Linked DNA regions of Homo sapiens. The protein of the gene in region 3 interacts with the protein of the main gene of each other region in a pairwise test. Each region holds a gene or a part of one and is shown on either strand. Other genes may lie near its edges.

Evidence for each region. The genes of interacting proteins can lie anywhere in the genome.
Region 1: the proteins of GLE1 (region 3) and MAOB interact in binary tests that used the Homo sapiens proteins (3 or more experiments, as listed by UniProt).
Region 2: the proteins of GLE1 (region 3) and KLHL20 interact in binary tests that used the Homo sapiens proteins (3 or more experiments, as listed by UniProt).

The regions. Positions count from the first base shown.
Region 1 is NC_000023.11:43,837,426-43,844,461, forward strand, and holds part of MAOB (amine oxidase [flavin-containing] B), read right to left. Parts: intron 6,492-7,036; exon of another isoform or gene 6,467-6,491; intron 6,340-6,466; coding exon 6,245-6,339; intron 1,581-6,244; coding exon 1,443-1,580; intron 1-1,442.
Region 2 is NC_000001.11:173,780,970-173,787,217, forward strand, and holds the end of KLHL20 (kelch-like protein 20), read left to right. Parts: intron 1-1,154; coding exon 1,155-1,261; intron 1,262-4,193; coding exon 4,194-4,278; 3' UTR 4,279-5,723; downstream 5,724-6,248. UniProt on the Homo sapiens protein: Substrate-specific adapter of a BCR (BTB-CUL3-RBX1) E3 ubiquitin-protein ligase complex involved in interferon response and anterograde Golgi to endosome transport.
Region 3 is NC_000009.12:128,528,705-128,535,740, reverse strand, and holds part of GLE1 (mRNA export factor GLE1), read right to left. Parts: exon of another isoform or gene 6,741-7,036; intron 3,077-6,740; coding exon of another isoform or gene 3,050-3,076; intron 2,229-3,049; coding exon 2,086-2,228; intron 1,981-2,085; coding exon 1,790-1,980; intron 1-1,789. UniProt on the Homo sapiens protein: Required for the export of mRNAs containing poly(A) tails from the nucleus into the cytoplasm. May be involved in the terminal step of the mRNA transport through the nuclear pore complex (NPC).

The DNA.
Region 1 (7,036 bases), on a different chromosome or scaffold from region 3:
GACCTCAGGTGATCCGCCCGCCTCAGCCTCCCAAAGTGCAGGGATTACAGGCGTGAGCCACTGTGCCCGGCCAATATAAAATAAAATTTGAAGGTCAACCAAAACATTTATTTATAAATTAAGGAAAACTTTTACCCACATTATACCAAATTAAGTAACTGCTTAGTTCCCATTTTATTAAATGTTTCATGATTTATGGTCAGTTATTTGTTTCGATATTATCACTCACAAATAATATGAGGATGTCAAAATTGTTATATAAATCAAAATTGACCGTTGCTAGTTTCTTCTGTCTTCTAAGGGGATGTTTTCTACCAGTGAGGAATAAGTTCCTGTGCTGCTTACTTCCACCCACAGGAGCAAGTGAAGATGAGAGAGGAAAGACTGAAATTGAAAACCTCCGCCAGTTCTTCCATGGGACTCCTGGATGGGGCCCAGATTAGGTGACTGTCTGATTGTCAGAGAACATGAGTGACTTTGTGGACCAAGATGAGGATGCTGGAAAAACAGAGGAGCAGGGAGATGTGAAGAGAGTCTGAGGACCAGCAGCATGGTGGGAGACTGGAATCTGCAGAGAAATGTGACCAGTGAGAAATCCTCAGGGGATGCTTTGATCTAAGAGGTTATTAGAATGAATGTCCAACATTCAGTTCTAATCTGTTTGTATTTCTGCAAATTTAAGAGCCTTCCCCCGCCCACCAAACCCAAGCAAACTTCAGTGACGTTTGCTTTTCACATATGCTTGTGGCGGTCTGAGAAAAATCAGGACAAAGAGGTGAGTGTGAACCCAGGTTGGCATAAGCAAAGAGAAGAAAAGAGTCACAGGCCGTGAGATGTGAATGAACATAGGTATCATGGAAGCCAGAACTATGAGCCACAAATGATCACAGGAATGAGAAACTCAGTAAATTCACAGAAATCTTGGGGAGAACAATGAAGCTTCCTTGCAAAAGACGGGATCTGGGACTTGAACCACTTTGATGTCAATCTCCAAAGAAGAATAACTTTAGCTGATATATAGGCCACAATGATAAAATGTAAGAATATTCCATTAGGCATATTGCAAATACTCTTTACAATGTGCAGTCTAGGGCAGCATTTTAAAAACTTTGCACAGGTTTTTATATAACATAAAAGACTTCCCGGTATTTAAATAGATATTTAATAAATAAAGCACAAATGTTTTTTCTTTATGGGTTTTGTTAAACATTTTACCACATGGAAGATACCACTTCATCAATAACCTTCCTAAATAGGTAGAATTCCCACCTAATTCACCTTTGATAACAGTGAATGAATCTCAGAGTGGCTGAAATACCATTATAAAATACATTTGCATCATCCAGAGATATAGAAGATTCTCTGAGAGAATGATCTGGAATTTGTGTAAGGAAACATCATAGAGAAGTTTTCAAATCCTTCAAAGTCTGGCCTGATCTTACCTTTACATGGTGGATCAGACGCTCAACCTCATTCACTTTGTAGGTCTCCAATCCTAGCTCCTTGGCTAATCTCAAGATACGATTCTGGGTTGGTCCAACATAGGATCCTCCAAGGTCCACATATTTAACCTTTTGGTTCTGTTTTCCCATAGGAAAAAATTAAAAAAAATTTGTAAAAAATGTATAAAATAACAAAAGACAGTCCTGAAATAAGCAAATCGACATTTCACAAGTTATAGATACAGCTTAAGGGTATATCCACGAAAAACTAGATTTTGTTATCAACTCTACTTCATTCACATGACTTAGTTATTAAATCAATCTTTAAAGCAAAATTGATTGAACTCTGAATAGGCAAGAGCTTCTAAACCTCATCATTTACAATATACCATAACATGGCTTGGTTTTTAGTGCTTTGAATTTGTGAGCTGTGAATTATTGACGAATCTCTTTACTCAGTACTTCAGGTGAATGTTGAGGAGCCTAATGCTAGAGAAAAAGCAAGAAAGAAAACGATCACTTCTTATGTGATTTGTTAATCCAGACATTTGAAAATAGCACTAGGGAATATTTGGTCATAATTTGGACTTTGAAATTGCTTTTATGTTTAATAGTATATTTACGTAGTTTTGAATTGGTTTCATTTCCAATGACTGAGGGGCGAACTTTGAACAAAAAATTAGTAGAAAAGTTTCCTATTTCTGAGTATGTCTAAGAAAAACCAGGTTCCTACCAGTTAGAAACACTAGAAATGGTCCTTCTCTTCTGTTTTTGTTTATTTGCGTATTTTTTGTCTAGCTTTCCACTCACTTACCCTTCAAAAATGCAATTTTCACAAGGCATCTTTGTTTTACTCACTAAAGTATTCCAAACTCCTATAGCAGTTGTCCAATAAATTTTCTCAAATAAATGAAAGAAGGATGTTTTTAAAAATTCAGCACCTAATTGTACTAAACCAGCTTCTTTACGTAAAAGGCACTCTTATATGCTGTATTTTTCAAGGAATATGAAGATTTCAAGAACTGGGAGAGATAAGATGTACACAGGCAAAACCTTGTAAAGCAACATATAATAATTGTCCTTGTGTGGAACAGGTAAGTGGTATTAACACAGAAGAAAGGCAAGTAGCTTTTGATTGGAGTAGGAAGGGATGAGATCCTGGAAGTATGTGAAGATTTTGCCATACGACAAAGGTAAAAAGAGATATTTGAGGAACACATAATGGCAAAAACAATGGCCAGTAGACAACAAGGGTTAGATCAAGTTTGAAGGCTTGTGTGAAATCACAAATAACTAGGTCAGGCGGTGTATGTCACAGTCAATAACAGATAAGGCTTTCAGGCTTCTCTGAGTCTCTGGCTCTCAAGACTGGTAAGGTACCCTCTTATGCCTCCTATGGCACCACTCCAAGCTGTCACCCACCCTCACTGTAGCATTTTCCTTGATAAGCTATAATTAGGCAATTACAACAGTCATTGTCCCCCTGAGAGACTGTAAAGTCTGTGGAGCAAGGCCATTTTGGGGGGATTACTGTGCCTGATTCATAGTAGGTACTCAGTAGATATTTGCTGAGGACAAATTCAATTATAAAGGAGATGACTCAAAGTAAAGAATGAGTACAGAGGGCTGGCAAGATGGTCGAATAGGAACAGCTCCAGTCTGCAGTTCCCAGTGAGATCAACACAGAAGGCAGGTGATTTCTGCGTTTCCAACTGAGGTACCCAGTTCATCTCACTGGGACTGGTTAGACTGTGAGTGCAGCCCATAGAGGATGAGCCTAAGCAGGGTGGGGTGTCGCCTTACCTGGGAAGTGCAAGGGGTTAGGGAACTCCCTTCCCTAGCCAAGGGAAGCTGTGAGGGACTGTGCCATGAGGAACAGTGCATTCTGGCCCAGATACTTTGCTTTTCTCATGGTCTTCACAACCCGCAGACCAGGAGATTCCCTCGGTCCTATGCCACCAGGGCCCTGGGTTTCAAGCACAAAACTGGGCGGCCATTTGGGCAGACACCGAGCTAGCTGCAGGAGTTTTTTTTTTTTTTTTTTCATATCCAAGTGGTGCCTGGAACACCAGTGGGACAGAACCGTTCACTCCCCTGGAAAGGGGGCTGAAGCCAGGGAGCCAAGTGATCTAGCTCAGCAGATCCCACCCCTGCACATGTATCCCAGAACTTAAAGTATAATTTAAAAAAAAGAATGAGTACAAAATGTCAGATATATATCATTGATGAATCCTTCCAAAAGAAGAGCTGTGAGTCAGAATTTTATATGTCTTATCTCTCTGGAAATGAAAATACTCTGTAGCTTCTATATCTATTATTCAGATCTTGAATGTATGGAAGTAGGGCATTTCCTTGCAGAGAAACTTGCTTTGCTTGACTCTGTGTTTAAATAGAAAATCATTAATTTTAGGCAACAGTGTCAGAATTGAAACAATTAACCAGCAATTAAAATAAGGGTATTTATAAATTGGTAAATAATTCTTTTAAAAAAATAAAAGCTGAAGCAAAAACAAGAAGGAAAATTAGGCAGGTAAAAGTTTAGTTTATGTGAATAAATAAAAACACATCCATGTTCATGGATTGGGAGAATTAATAATGTAAAATGTCCATACTACCCAAAGTGATCCATAGATTCAGTGCAATCCCCATCAAAATGCCAATGTTATTTTTCACAGAAACAGAAAAAACAATCCTTAAATTCATATGGAACTACAGAAGACTACAACTAGCCAAAACAATCTTGTACAAAAAGAACAAAGGTGAAGGCGTTATACTACCCAACTTCAAAATATATTATGAAGCAATTTTAATCAAAACAGTATGGTACTGACATAAAAACAGACTCACCAACCAATAGAACAGGATAGAAAGCTCAAAAATAAACCCACACATTTACAATCAATTGAGTTTTGATGAAGATTCCAAGAACACACAATGGGGAAAGGACAGTCTATTCAATAAATGGTGCAGGAAAAACGGACTATCCACATGCAGAAGAATAAAAGTAGTCCCTTATCTTATACCATATGCAAACACCATATACAAATAATCAACTCTAAATAGATTAAAGACTTAAACACGAGACCTGAAACGGCAAAATTACTTGAAGAAAACAAGGGGAAAGCTCCATGACACTAGTCAGGGAAATGATTTTTTGGATATGGCCCTGAAAGATCAGGAAAAAAAGCAAAAACAGACAAATGGAATTGCATCAAACTACAAAGCTCCTGCACAGCAAAAGAACAATTAATAAAATGATAGTTTTCTTTACATATTTGCAAGCCGTACATCTGATAAGAGGTTAATATCCAAATTATATAAGAAACTCAAACAACTCAATAGCAAGAGACAAATAACCAGATTTTTAAAGAATGGGCAAAGGAACTGAACAGACACTTCTCAAAAGAAGACATGCAAATGGCCAACAGGTTCATGGAAAAAGTTCAGCACCACTAATCATTAGGGAAATCCAAATTAAAACCAAAATGAGATATCACCTCACACCTGTTAAAATGGCTTTTATCAAAAAGAGGAAAAATAATCAGTGTTGTCAAGGATGAAGAGAAAAGGGAACCCTTGTACACTATTGGTGGGAATGTAAATCAGTACAGCTATTACAGAAAACAGTATGGAGGTTCCTCAGAAAACTAAAAATGGAAAACTAAAAATAGAACTACCGCATAATTCAGCAATCCCATTTTTGGGAATATATCCAAAAGAATTGAAGTCAATATGTCAAAGAGATATCTGCACACCCATGTTCATTGCAGCATTATCTACAGTAGCCATGATATGAAATCACCCTAAGTGTCCATCAGTGGATAAATGGATGAGGAAGACTTGGTATATACACACAATGAAATACTATTCAGCCTTTAAAAATAAAGAAATGTCATTTGGGACAACATAGATGAATTTGGAGGACATTATGCTAAGTGAAATAAGCCAGGCACAGAAAGACTTATAAGTGGAATCTAAAACACGTTGAATTCATAGAAGTAGAGAGCAAAATGAATATTATCAGGGGCTGGGGGGTGAGAACTGAGGGAATGAGGAGTACAAAATTTTAGCTAGACAGGAAGGGTACAAAATTTTAGCTAGACAGGAAGAATAAGTTTTGAAATCCATTGCACAGTAACTGTAGTAATAATAATGTATTGTGCATTTCAAAATAACAGAGTAAATTTCAAATGTATCACCACAAAAAATGTCAAGAAAGTGAGGTGCTGAATATGTTAATTTAGCTTGATTTAATCACTCCACATTGTATACATATGGTGAAAACATCACATTATACTCCATAAATGTAATACAATTATGATTTGTTAAAATAAAATTTAAAAAATAAATTTAAAAATGGGAGAAAGTCTCTCCAAAAAAGTTTAGTTTGTATGATTAGAATGATTGTGTTGGTGTGAAGGAAGCATCGAAGTTAGGAGTGGAAAGTACATATAATTATGTTATTTTTCTTCCTATTTCTCTCTCTGTCTCACACACACACACACACACACACACACACACACACACACACACACACACACAGAGGCACACACATATCTGTCCATTTCCCTCTTACTCAATCCTAACTCTATGAGGCCAAATATCATGAGATGAAAAGACAAAAAGGAACAGAAGAATTGAAAGGAAGGCAAACTGGGAGAGAGGCTGTGAAGAATGTTTCAGAGTTATTTTCACCCTCTTAGAGTCAAATGAAATTGAAGACTTTTGGGGAAAAAGACAAAAATGAAACCCCAAACTCAGCTTCAGTCCCACATTTGTCCTCCGGATTCTTAATGCCTTACCCTAAGAGTGTAAGTCCTGCCTCCCACACGGTCCCGGGCTTCCAGAACAACCACATTCAGTCCAGAGTCATGCAGAAGTTTGGCTGCTGCCATACCTGGGAGAAAAGACAGTAAGACATCAGGATCAAATACAAGGATGCCAGACAAGCTCCTCATGCTAACAGCCAATGAGAAAAGTCCATGCTGGCTCACGTGCACCGCCTATTGTTACATTCAACTTACAAGTGGATACGGTTTGTCAATAGAGGCCCAGAGTCTGATGTTTCTGGAAACGACAAAAGGGATTTCATTTTTTAGTAAATTTCTCAAATCTTAAACACATCCTCTGCCACTATATCAAAATGTCTATTTTAATGACTAAATTGCATGTCTGATAACATAAATGAGAACACAAGGCCATGCTCAAGAGAAATATATGAGTTGCAGACACAGGACTAAGTCCAGTCACTGACTTCATTCTCAGGGTAAATATGAAAAACTGGTAAACTGAGGGACAGTGGGCCTTCAAAGTGTGTGCCAGGAACTGGGATTTACTATTAAAGTTGGACTTTTAGAAGTTGACGTAAAGTTTCAAAATCAAGGAGGTAAAATTCGACCCCTTATGCATCTGGATTTCCTGATATGACCCATCACTGAAGAATGAAATAATTCCATTCATGACTAATTTAATTATTAATTTAGTCAAAAATACTTAGTGAATGCCTATTACATTCTCACCACCATGAATTTAGCTCTTAAAAAAACCCACAGCTTTACTGAGGTAAATGTACATGCAATAAACTTTACCCATTG
Region 2 (6,248 bases), on a different chromosome or scaffold from region 3:
TGACAGAGCGAGACCCTGTGAGTGAGAGAGAGAGAGGGAAAGAGGGAGAGGGAGAGAGAGAGAGGAGGGAGGAGGGAGGGAGGTGGGGGAGGGGAGGGGAGAAGAAAACACCAGCCAGGGAACATGTGCAAAAGTGTGGAGGTGTGAAAAATGTATGTTATCTTCAGGGACTAGCAGTTAATCCAGTTTTACTGCAGCAATAGGATTCATTAGTTAGGAGTAAAGGGAAACTATAAGAGGTGAGGCTTAAATAGTGGGCTAAGATAGATTTCTGGAGGGCCTGAGTAACATAATAAGGACTTTAAAACTTACCCTTAAATAGTAGGGAGGCTTAGAAAGTTGTTTTGGTTTTAGGAGATTTTTTTGAGAGGGTCCCACTCTGCTGCCCAGGCTGGAGTGCAGTGTACACAATCTCAGCTCACTGCAACCTCGACCTTTCAGGCTCAAGCAGTCCTCCTGCCTCAGCCTTCCAAGTAGCCGGGACTACAGGTATGCCCCACCACACCCAGCTAATTTTTGTATTTTTTGTAAAGACAGGGTCTCACTGTGTTGCCCAGGCCTGTCTCGAACTCCTGGGCTCAAGCGATCCACCGACCTCAGCCTCCCAAAGTGAGAAAGTTTTTAGAGGAAAGTGACAATATGATTAGATTTATATTTTTCTGTTTTACTTTATTTTTGTAGAGATAGGGGTCTCACTGTGTTGCCCAAGCTGGTCTTGAACTCCAGGCTTCAAGTGATGCTCCCACCTGGGCCTTCCCAAAGTGCTGGGATTACAGGCATGAGGTACCATGCCTGGCCTAGATTTGTATTTTTAAAAGAGAATTTTACTAGCAATTAGAAAGATTAGAGCAGGCAAATACCAGAGGAAGTGAGAGCAGTTTGGAGGTTGTTTGCTCACTTCTAGTGAACAGTTTTTCTAAAATTTAAGAAATACATGTTTTGGATTCTGTGTGAATATTCTAATTGAATATATAATTTTATAGTTCCCATAATTTGATAGACTTTTGTTGTTACATTTTCCCTGTGTTTCAGTAAACCAGAATGTAAGGCCATAAAGAATTATCTTTTGTAAATAGATTTATCTAGAAACCAGTCTATAATTTCCTTACGATTGTCTAGTTTCTTCAGCAGCTTACTGTATTTTGGTTTTGTAGGTTGGCCTGGCAGTGGTCAATGGACAGCTCATGGCAGTAGGAGGTTTTGATGGCACAACATACTTGAAGACCATAGAAGTTTTTGATCCTGATGCCAATACATGGAGGTAACTTTTAAGCTGTGTAGCAAATCACCTCACTACTGATTTGGAAATCATGGGCTTGAAATAGCCTATGACCATCAGAACTGGGATGGTCAGTACATTGGAGTACTTTGAAGAGGGCTGAAGTTACACATATTTATGGCTCATTTTGACTTGATTGCTCTAAAGTGGCTGATATATTACAAAATTCTCCTTTTCAGTAACTGTCCAGTTTTATAATTAGAGATGGGTAAAATAGGGAAAAAAAATCTTCCTAGTCCCATCATGTTCAGCTGAGGAAACAAAAGCACCGAGAAATAAAATGACCTGCCTAAGTGAGTTAGTGACAGAGTTAGAATTAGAACCTAGGTCTTTGGCTCCAAATCTGTCCATGCCATTTTTTGGTGTTCTTGTGGGAAACCTATGCCTAGGAGAAACAAATTGCAATTACTTTTGAAAAATTAATATTTGAAAAATAATATTTCATTTTTAAAGCCATTTTAACTTTTAGGGAGGAGGCTACATCTTATTTAAGAGAGCTTAACTTAAACTTCATTTCTAGGTTTAATTTTACTTTGCTTTTAAATCCTCAATTGTCTAATAAAGCTTTCTTAAGTAGTTAAGTAGTTTTTATAATTTCACATAAATTAGGTGACTTTTGCATTTATTTTAAATATTCAAGAACCTTTACAAACTTAGCAAAATTCTCTTAAACCTTTAAACTTAAAATAATTAAGTCTAAATCTTTACTCAATCATATTTTATACTTGAATCACAAGAGTAATCTTATAGATGCCCTAAAAAGCCAAATTCTCTTAAACACTACAGGAACTTAAAATGCAAAACACATAGTTTATTCTCAAACTTTAAAAATAACAATACTATGGGTTTGATGTATGGCATATCTGTACTTAATTCTAAATACTAGTCTTCTAAGAAAACAGTTTTGCCTTCCAAGCAATTTGGGGTTTCCTTCTCAATAAAATGGGCTTACTTGCCTAAGCAAGTTTAGGGTTACCATCTCAGTGGTTAAGGTTGCACATCAACCAGAAATATCAGGCTGGACATGTGAGCTGAGGCAGCAGACATTCTGGGAAATTTTTCTTATGACCATGAAGGATAAGCTGAGCTCTGTTTTATTGTTACTATTCTAAAAGAGGCAGTCTTGTAGTCCTTTCTTACTGTATTCTAATAGTCTATCTCTAGGAAAGCCACAACTCTCACAGAGATTTAAGTGACATGCTTTGGATCCTACATATGTCTCACAGCTCCATATGACTCAGTGGTCACAAAACTAAAGTCAGGCTAATAACAGCGTGTACGTTTTGCTCCTACATCACATTTTTACAGTCCTGTTCATTAAGTAAAGATTTATTGATGGCCAGGCACGGTGGCTCATGCCTGTAATCTCAGCACTTTGGGAGACCAAGGTGGGCGGATCACCTGAGGTCAGGAGTTCGAGACCAGCCTGGCCAACATGATGAAACCTCGTCTCTACTAAAAATACAAAAACTAGCCAGGCATTGGGGTGGGCACCTGTAATCCCAGCTACTTGGGAGGCTGAGGCAGGAGAATCACTTGAACCTGGGGTCAGAGGTTGCAGTGAGCAGAGATTGGGCCATTGCACTGCAGCCTGGGTGACAGAGCAAGACTCCGTCTCAAAAAAAAAAAAAGATTTACTAAGTGCTCCGAGCCCTGGGGATACAAAACTGAACAACAACAACAAAAATTCCTGCCAAGCGCACGCCTGTAATCCCAGCTACTAGGGAGGCTGAGGCATGAGAATCTCTTGAACCCAGAAGGTGGAGGTTGCAGTGAGCCGAGATCACACCACTGCACTCTAGCCTGAGTGGAAGAGCAAGACTCCGTCTCAAAACAAAACAAAACAACAAAAAAGTTCCTTGCCCTGCTGGAGCTAACCAATTGTATTGAGGGAGACAAACAGTACCATACCAGTAGATGGAAGTGCTGTGGCAAATATCAAAGCAGGGGAGGGGGCTAGGGAGTACAGGGAGGGGAATCTGTTTTTAAAGGTGTTCAGGGAAGGCCTCATTGGAAAGGTAGCATTTTAGCAAAACCTAAATACGGTAAAGGATAGGTAATGGCAGCTTTGGGCCTCTCACTGGCAGGATATTTTCTTCCATATACAGCTTTCTATTTTTACTAGGAATTTTGATTAAGCATAATTTCTGAAGACAGCCAAATTTACTGTCACTTAATCACTATAATCTTATCTGAGGACTTGTTTCTTAGTAACTGTCACTAAATAGAATTAGTAATAGATGACAAAGTAATAGTCATGAAATTATTGAGGATCATCTGTTGAAAGATTAATAACTAAATATTTGCAGTTACATATCCAAGACTTAAAAACCAACTCTACCTCATAGCTGATAAGGGTCTAGTATTCTTCTCCATGGAAAGTCCTTAATTTTGAAGATGATCTTGTCACAAACTAGATGCTGACTTTACTCAAATCTGGTTTTGTTCTATAAAGGACTTGAAGAGGCTTACAGAGTACATATAAGACAAAGGGATAAAAATAAATAATTGAAGAATTTTAGGCAAAGGGAAAACATAGGTGGGACAATAATATAGCCAGGGGCAAAATTTTGAAAATGTAGAATATATAATTCTGTGTAACCGTTAGAAGTCAGTGAGGTATACAGTTGTAAAGTTCTGATGCCAAACGTGAATATGATGCTCTCTTATTCTTCACACAGCCTCCTATGAGTGAGAGCATGTCAGTCAATCTCTGAAACAGTCCTGCTACTCAACAGTGCTCAATTGCAGCTTCTAATCTTTAGAATGAAGACAATATTAGTGTGAAGCTGAAAATATTAGTTGTAATATAAAACATAGAAACGTGTTAATAACATCTTAGTCGTAGTTAATAACATCTTAGTTGTAACATATTTTCCAGTTAGAAAATATGATTATGTTTCTTTCTTTGCAGGTTATATGGCGGGATGAATTACCGTCGGCTAGGGGGTGGCGTAGGAGTTATTAAAATGACACATTGTGAATCCCATATTTGGTGAACACAGAGAAGACAGTCTTGTATATATTCCTCTGTATTCTGGGGAGCTTTGACCTTGGAGCTTTGTACAGCTTGAGAAAACATTAGAACAAATTTTATTATTTGCCGGTGCCTCAACAAATGGAAATACAATCCAATGAAAGTACTTCACCTGCAAGATGCACAATAATTTTCAACTCTGTGCAGAAGAATATTTATTTTTGGTTTTAATTTATCATGGTTTTTTGTTGTTTTCGTTTTGAACTTATCCTTCCTCCCACAAAAAAAGAAAAGAAGAAAAAATTCCAAGCAGCAAAACTTACTTTGTTTGTAAGGTATTCATTTAGGTTTGAAAATACTATTTAATAAGGGCAGAAGGGCTATATATGATTTGGCTATTATTTCTAGACACTCCATCCACATGATTCCACTAACAAGGATTACCAGGAATAAAGGTAGGTATGCAAAATGTATTAGCTACCCATTATTCTCGCACTAACCACCAGAAGACTTGAAAATCTTAAAAAAAAAAAACAAAAAAACAAGAAAAGGCAACATCTCATTTTAAATAGTACAATTCAGAAGGGATACTAAATCAATAAAAACCAGGACTCAGACACTACAGTTTTCATCAGTGTAATTTTATGTCTTGTTTCTTTCTATATGAACTTGTTTATTTAGTCTTTTTTTCATAATATTCTCATAGAGTTTCTGCTAGATCTAGAGCTCTGCTCAGTGCCTCTTATAAAAACAATATATAAGTCTCATATGCTGTCTTGAGAATCCAAGAGAATCACATGCAGCTCTGCAACAGTTTTTGCTCAAAAATGTTACTGACTAAAGCAACTGTCCTTCCTGTTTCCTTATTGCTACCAAGGACCAGCAGGGAGAAATGTCTTCTCCCAGCAGTGAATTCTGTTATGCAATTTATTCTTGATGCTCAGGCCTGGTTAAGCTGAGGCTTACCTTTAATAACAGCCTCCAAGGGAATGAATTATTCAGTTAATGTAATAGCACACATTAAAGAGTGTAAAATCAATTGAGGCATTTTATTAATATCTTGGTTCTTTTATACAAACAATGTATCATTATCTTCATTCTATAAGGTCATTGTTACTACTTCTCTCAAATTGCACTTTCTGGTAAAAAGTTAAAAATTTTTAAGGAAAAAATAATTTCAATGGTTAAAGTTTTTTTTCCTCATTGTATTCATAGACAAATTTTTTTCAATATATTTTGCAAGAAAAATCTTTGAATAAGACTAACTGCATTTAAAAGGAATAACCTCCTTCTCCCTTTCCCCAACTACAAAAATGTTTGGCAACTTTGTGTTTACATTTAAAGATCATTTGCACCTTTTTCAAGGAAAAAAAGTATTGAGTAAACAATTGTTTACATATATCATTTATGCTTTTTTCTAGCATGTATAACTTTTTTAAATAAAGGTAGTATTTACCATTAAAAAAATTTTAGCTAATGCTTTTTATCCTTGTACTTTTGTTATTTAATTTGGAATTTCTGTTTCTATATAATTTATTTTATCTGTATGTAAAGTTACAAGTGCTTTCAACTTGAATAAAAGGATTGCCAGCTAGAATTAATAGGAATTTTCATTATATATTTTTATATGTTATATTACCTAACCTATAAACTTATTTTCTAGGTAGGACTTAGACTCATACAATTTTGAGCTGGAAGGACTCTTTAACAATCATCTAGTCCAAACCCACTTATTACACTGATCCAAGTCTGAAAACCACAAAGTCTGCCTAAGAATAAATAGTCAATTAATGATAGAACCAACATTAGAAATCAGCTTCCTCAATTCCCAGTCCATTCCTCTTTCTATGCCACACTGCCACTATAGGTTTACCTGAAACTAAATATAATAAAAGACCTTAAGTATTTTAATTAAGTCTGGTATTAACATGTAAAAAGTATAAAAACTTTTATGAGATCCTCACTGTAGTACATCATTAACAATCAGTCTTC
Region 3 (7,036 bases):
CAAGCGATTCTTCTGCCTCTGCCTCCCGAGTAGCTGTGATTAAGGCACCTGCCACCACACCTGGCTAATTTTTTGTATTTTTAGTAGAGACAGGGTTTCACCATGTTGGCCAGGCTGGTCTTGAACTATTGACCTCAGGTGATCTGCCCGCCTCAGCCTCACAAAGTGCTGGGATTACAAATGTGAGCCACCGCGCCTGGCCTTTTTTTTTTTTTTTTGAGACAGAGTTTCACTCTTGTTGCCCAGGCTGGAGTGCAATGGCATGATCTCGGCTCAGTGCAACCTCCACCTCCTGGGTACAAGCGATTTTCCTGCCTCAACCTCCTGAGTGGCTGGGATTACAGGTGCCTGCCACCATGCCCAGCTAATTTTTTGTATTTTTAGTAGAAACGGGTTTTCCCCATATTGGCCAGGCTGGTCTCAAACTCTTGGCCTCAGGTGATCCGCCCGCTTTGGCGGCCTTGGCTTCCCAAAGTGCTGGGATTACAGGCGTGAGCCACCGCGCCCAGCCAACACCTGGCTAATTTTGTAGAGACAGGGTCTCACTATGTTACCCAGGCTGGTCTTGAACTCCTGGGCTCAAGCGATCCTTCTGCTTCAACCTCCCAAATTGTTAAAGTAATTACAGGCATGAGGCACTGCACCTGGCCCAGAGATTACTTTTTATGGCTAAAAAATAACAATATATTATTACACTCAGCATTACTATTAATATATTATTACAGGCCGGGCGTGGTGGCTCACGCCTGTAATCCCAGCACTTTGGGAGGCCAAGGCGGGCAGATCACAAGGTCAAGAGATCGAGACCATCCTGGCCAACATGGTGAAACCCCATCTCTATTAAAAGTATAAAAATTAGCTGGGCGTGGTGGTGGGCGCCTGTAGTCCCAGCTACTCGGGAGGCTGAGGCAGGATAATCACTTGAACCCAGGAGGCAGAGGTTGCAGTGAGCTGAGATCACGCCACTGCACTCCAGCCTGGGTGACAAAGCGAGACGCTGTCTCAAAAAAAAATAAAAAAAATAAAAAATATGTATATATATTATTACATATTATTACATCTGTAGAATACTTTGTTTACCAAGCACTCATATCCATCATCAAATCTGAGCTTCATGTAAGCCATGAGGTAAATTCACAGGAGGTAATAGATGTCATTACCCTCATTTAAAAATCAGGAAAAGATGCTCAAAAAGACTAAATGATTTGTCCATTTTTGCAAAGGTATTAAATGACAAAGCAGGGATAAAATTCCAAGACCCCAGTATCCTTTCCACTAAACTACATTGACTACTGGCACCTAAGTTCACAAATCCCAAAGGCTCTCCAGTTTACATAAAAGACTATGTATATATATTTTTTCTTTCTTTTTTGAGACACACTCTTGCTGTGTCACCCAGGCTGGAGTATACTGGTGCGATCTTGGCTCACTGCGACCTCCGCCTTCCGGGTTCAAGCAATTCTCGTGCCTCAGCCTCCTGAGTAGCTGGGACTACAGGTGTGCACCATTACACCTGGCTAATTTTTGGTATTTTTAGTAGAGATGGCGTTTCTCCATGTTGCCCAGGCTGGTCTCAAACTCCTGAGCTCAGGCAATCCACCCAACTTGGCCTCCCAAAATGTTGGGATTACAGGCATGAGCCACTGCACCCGGCCGAAAGACATTATATTTCTGATAGAACATTCAAGGTACGTAATAGGAGCTGTGAGGAGGGAAAAACAAATTCCAATTCTATTTATATTTCATTAATCACTCTAGGGATAGTGAGTAGGGAGAAAAACAACTTTACCTCTGATAGTCTTCCAAAGCCATTCCCTCCTTGAAAGTGGGATAGAAAGGAACAGAGTAAGGACACTTCTTATGTAGATGAGCAAGAATGAGGTCCCCCACTCTGGGGTGGAGCTCCCAGATCCCGGATGCCACAACTGCAATGGGGAATGCTGCTTCATGGTGAGAGGCCACTTCCTCCTCGCCTTGTTTCTGAGAACATAGAGGTGGGTACAATTTTAACTTAATACCAGAAAAAGGCTGAAATCTTGTACACCAGCCTCTGCTTCCCATACCTCTAGCAACAAGGTTTCTCACCACAAATTTCTCTGCCAGTTTGTATTGAACAAAGTCCAGCCCCTGTGGGTTAAGTGTGACAGACACAGAGCGCCCACCAGATTGAACAGGTTTTCCAGAGAGCAGGCTGTGGATCTTGTCAAAGATCTCCTTCAGTTTTGAGCCTGAGCATGATAGAGAGAAATTAAAAGATATAACCACAGATCAATCTCTTTTTCTTTTCCTTTTTTTTTTTTTTTTTTTTTTTTTGAGACAGTATCACTCTACTGCCCAGGCTGGAGTGCAGTGGCACAATCTTGGCTCACTGCAACCTCCGTCTCCCGAGTTGAAGCAATTCTCTGCCTCAGCCTCCTGAGTAGCTGGGATCACAGACGCCCGCCACCACACTGGGCTAAGTTTTGTATTTTTTTTTTTTTGTAGAGATGGGATTTCACCATGTTGGCCAGGCTGGTCTCTAACTGCTGACCTCAAGTGATCCGCCCGCTTTGGCCTCCCAAAGTGCTGGGATTACAGGCGTGAGCCACCATGCCCAGCCTGTTTCATCATTGTAATTACAAAGCATCTACAAAAACCCAGCTGTGCTGCCCTACAGAAATGAAGGGATAAACAGTATCCCTTACTGTACACATAAAATGAAGGGATAAACAGTATAGAAAGAGGTGTTACATTTTGTTACAGACCCCATGGACTGTGGTTGGTATCTCTAGAGGAGTTAGTCACATCTCTAGGAAAAACCTTCTAAAGGATCTAACCAGCTCATGATGATATGCCCCCTTCTCAGGACTTGCCTTCTTCCGTCCTCAGAGACACAGAAGTGGATTCGTAACAGCTATATTTGTACCAAAGATTTTGTGTGCTCCACCCCCACACTAGCTACAGTTAGATTAGAGGCAGTCAAGCTGAGCCAGTCAGTCAACTAAGAGTCACTTCCTTGAGGTAGCTGGCCCTGTGTCACATACACTCACAAGCAGTGGGGGCTGCGTACCTGCCATGAAGACCAAAGAACGGCAATCTATAAAATAAGAATGGAGATGTAGAGAGGACAGATGAGATGAGAGAGGAAAAAAGAACTAAAGTTTCTAGCTCCTGAGACCTCACCTCATTCCTGCCACTGGGTTCTGTAGGATATTTCTTTATCTTTCCAATAAATGCTTTTTTTTTTTTGCTTAAGCAGATCTGGGCCAGCACTTTGGGAGGCCAAGGCAGGCAGATCACTTGTGGTCAGGAGTTCGAGACCAGCCTGACCAACATGGTGATACCTCGTCTCTACTAAAAATGCAAAAATTAGCCAGGTGTGGTGGCGGGTGCCTGTAATCCCAGCTACTCGGGGAGGCTGAGGCAGGAGAATCGTTTGAACCCAGGAAGCGCAGGTTACAGTGAGCCGAGATTGTGCCACTGCACTCCAGCCTGGGTGACAAAGCAAGACTCCATCTCCTCCCTAAAAAAAAAAAAAAAAAAAAAAAAAAAGCAAAGCAGATCTGAATTACTTTCCATTACCTGAAGTCCTGAAGTCAATGTTTTAATTAATACAGCATCTCCAGTTGAGAAATACCCTGTCAAGTTCCTAATCACTTCAAGAAATGTCACAAAAGTTTCAGAAATATCCTGTCATTCAGTTCTCTTATCAAAAAAAAAAAAAGCCAACCATGTGGACCCCACTGGCTGAATGCCCCATCTAGCATCTAGCCTCTCTCCATACCTCTCTAGGTAGGAGGAAAGTTAGTTAGCTTCCAACCCTAGACTGACGTGGCCTCCCCATGCCACAGCAACATCATGTCCTTATTTAAGATTTCTTCTAATTCTAACCACTCATGGACATCCATCTTTTTTTTTTTTTTTTTTTTTGAGCTGGAGTCTCACTCTGTCACCCAGGCTAGAGTGCAGTGGTTCGATGTCACCTCACTGCAACCTCTGCCTTCCGGGTTCAAGTGATTCTTCCACCTCAGCCTCCCAAGTAGCTGGGACTACAGGTGTGTGCCACCACGCCCGGCTAATTTTTGTATTTTTAGTAGACACGGGGTTTCACCATGTTGGCCAGCCTGATCTCAAACTCCTGACCTCAAGTGATCTGTCTGCCTCATCCTCTCAAAATGCTGGGATTACAGGTGTGAGCCACCACACCCGGCGACATCCACTTTTTTTTTTTTTTTTGAGATGAAGTCTCACTCTGTCACCCAGGCTGGAGTACAATGGCACGATCTTGGCTTACTGCAACCTCCGCTCCTGGGTTGAAGTGATTTTCCTGCCTCAGCCTCCCGAGTAGCTGGGATTACAGGCGCCTGCCACCACATCTGGCTAATATTTGTATTTTAGTAGAGATGGGGTTTCACCACATTGGCCAGGCTGGTCTTGAACTCCTGACCTCCTATGATTCACCCACCTCAGCCGCCTAAAGTGCTGGGACTACAAGTGTGAGCCACTGGGCCCAGCTGACATCCACCTTTTTTTTTTTTTTTTTTTTTGAGATGGAGTTTTGCTCTTTTTGCCCAGACTGGAGTGCAATGGCGTGATCTCAGATCACCGCAACTTCTGCCTCCTGGGTTCAAGAGATCCTCCTGCCTCAGCCTCCTGAGTAGCTGGGATTACAGGCATGCACCACCATGCCCAGCTAATTTTGTATTTTTAGTAGACACAGGGTTTCTCCATATTGGTCAGGCTGATCTCGAACTCCTGACCTTGTGATCCACCCGCCTCAGCCTCCCAAAGTGCTGGGATTACAGGATTACAGGCGTGAGCCACTGTGCCCGGCCCACCTTTTTTTTTTTTTTGAGACGGAATCTCGCTCTTTCACCCAGGACGGAGTGCAGTGGTGCTATCTCGGCGCACTGCAAGCTCCGCCTCCCGGGTTCATGCCATTTTCCTGCCTCAGCCTCCGGAGTAGCTAGGACTACAGGTGCCTGCCACCACGCCCAGCTAATTTTTTGTATTTTTAGTAGAGACAGGGTTTCACCGTGTTAGCCAGGATGGTCTCGATCTCCTGACCTGGTGACCCGCCAGGCTCGGCCTCCCAAAGTGCTGGGATTACAGGCGTGAACCACCGCGCCCGGCCCACCTTTTTAAAAAAGAGAAGAATTAGGTGATCCTTCCCTCCTATTCATTAAACGCTTACTGAGCACTAACTAGAGCATGTTCTGTGTCTGGCTGGACTACAAGATCTTAAAGGACTTAAAGTCTTGATGGAGACAAAGGGAGAGTCAGGAAATGTGTAGAAAAATTAAAAAAGGCAAAGATATAGACTAATTCGATGTGGTGAGTGAAAGAGAGGCAGCAGTCATAAAGATGACTCCCAGGTTTCCAGCTAAGATTACTGAGTAGATAATGGTGCTACTGATTACTCAAGAGAAAACAGCAGACAAAGAGGGCTAAGGAAGATGATGGGTTTGGATTTGAACACATTAAACTTGAGGCAGCTAAGAGACATATAGGCAGAGATGTCCCTCAGGTAGCTGAAGCTGGAGAATCTGAAGCTCAGAAGAAAGGAATAAACCAGAGGTAGGTTTGGGAGTCATCAGCATTCAGGTAATGTTTGAAGCCCTGTAAGTAGAGAGAACGAAAAGAACTGCAGGATAAGAGTAGATCCCAGCCGGGCACAGTGGCTCATGCCTGTAATCCCAGCACTTTGGGAGGCCGAGGTGGGCAGATCATGAGGTCAGAAGATCGAGACCATCCTGGCTAACACGTTGAAATCCTGGCTAACACGTTGAAACCTGGTCTCTACTAAAAATACAAAAAATTAGCCGGGCGTGGTGGCAGGCGCCTGCAGTCCCAGCTACTCGGGAGGCTGAGGCAGGAGAATGGCGTGAACCCGGGAGGTGGAGCTTGCACTGAGCCGATATAGTGCCACTGCACTCCAGCCTGGGCGAAAGAGCGAGACTCTCAAAAAAAAAAAAGAGTAGATCCCTAGGAATCACCTACAATTAGAGTGGGGTAGAAGACTAAGAAACCCACAAAGGGGAGAGAGAGAGAGGGAGAGAGGGAGAGAGAGAGAGGAAAGGGTAGTGAGGGAGGGAGGAGAAGAACCTGGAAAGTAATGGCACCATGGAGGCCAAAGGAGTAGAGTTGCACAGAGAAAGCAGCAACAGTGCCGAACAGAAACCTCAGGAAGATCAGCAAACACTTAGAAGACATAGGATCAAGGGAGACTCATGTTAGGATGTGAGGGGCTCACATATATTTACAGGCTGAGAGAGAGGAGCCTATAAAAAGGAGTAATCACAGAAAACAGGAAAGGCAATAAACGATGAGGCAGTCTGACAGGAGACAGGAAGGAAAGGGAACAAGGGCAGAGGTGGAAGGGTAAGCCCAGCAGCAAGGACGCCTCATCCAGTGACACAGGAGACTAAGAGGTAAATGTCACTGTGCAGTGGTGGAGGGGCTCTGAGGAGCTCACACTGGATGTCTCCATTTTCCTGATGAAGGAGGTACTGACCCTGTCTGCAGTCAACAGAGGGGAACTGGGAACGGCCATCGAGGTGTGGAGTGGCTGTCCAGTCAACCTCTCTTGCTTTGCTGTTGCTATCAAAGGACACAGCACTTTAAATTCCAAAAAGTGATATGTTATTTATTTATTTATACCTTGCCCTGTTCCAGAAAGAATTTCAGGCAGCAAAGTCATATGTAAGTTTTGCTGGACTGCCTATCAAGGGCAGGAACTGAAATTTTCCTATGCTTTCCAGGCAATGAGAAGTGAGTCGGGGAACGGAACCCACGATGCGTCAGAGGAGTGTTCCAGTTGCACACACACTCCCCAGCCACCTGGCAGCTCAGTCTATAATCTGGAGGCTTCCACATCTACAGCTCCATACAAATGAACCTCTGGTTCTAAAGAAGTTTCTTCCTTGTCTGGTTCTCACTTTCTAAACCTCAGTCTCTGGAGAGAAAAGGAGTCCTGGAGGATGAACAAGGCGAGCTTGGAGTAATTTGGAAAAGCTAATGTTGTAGGACAGAAGCAAAGCCTGCAAGTCACAGCCTA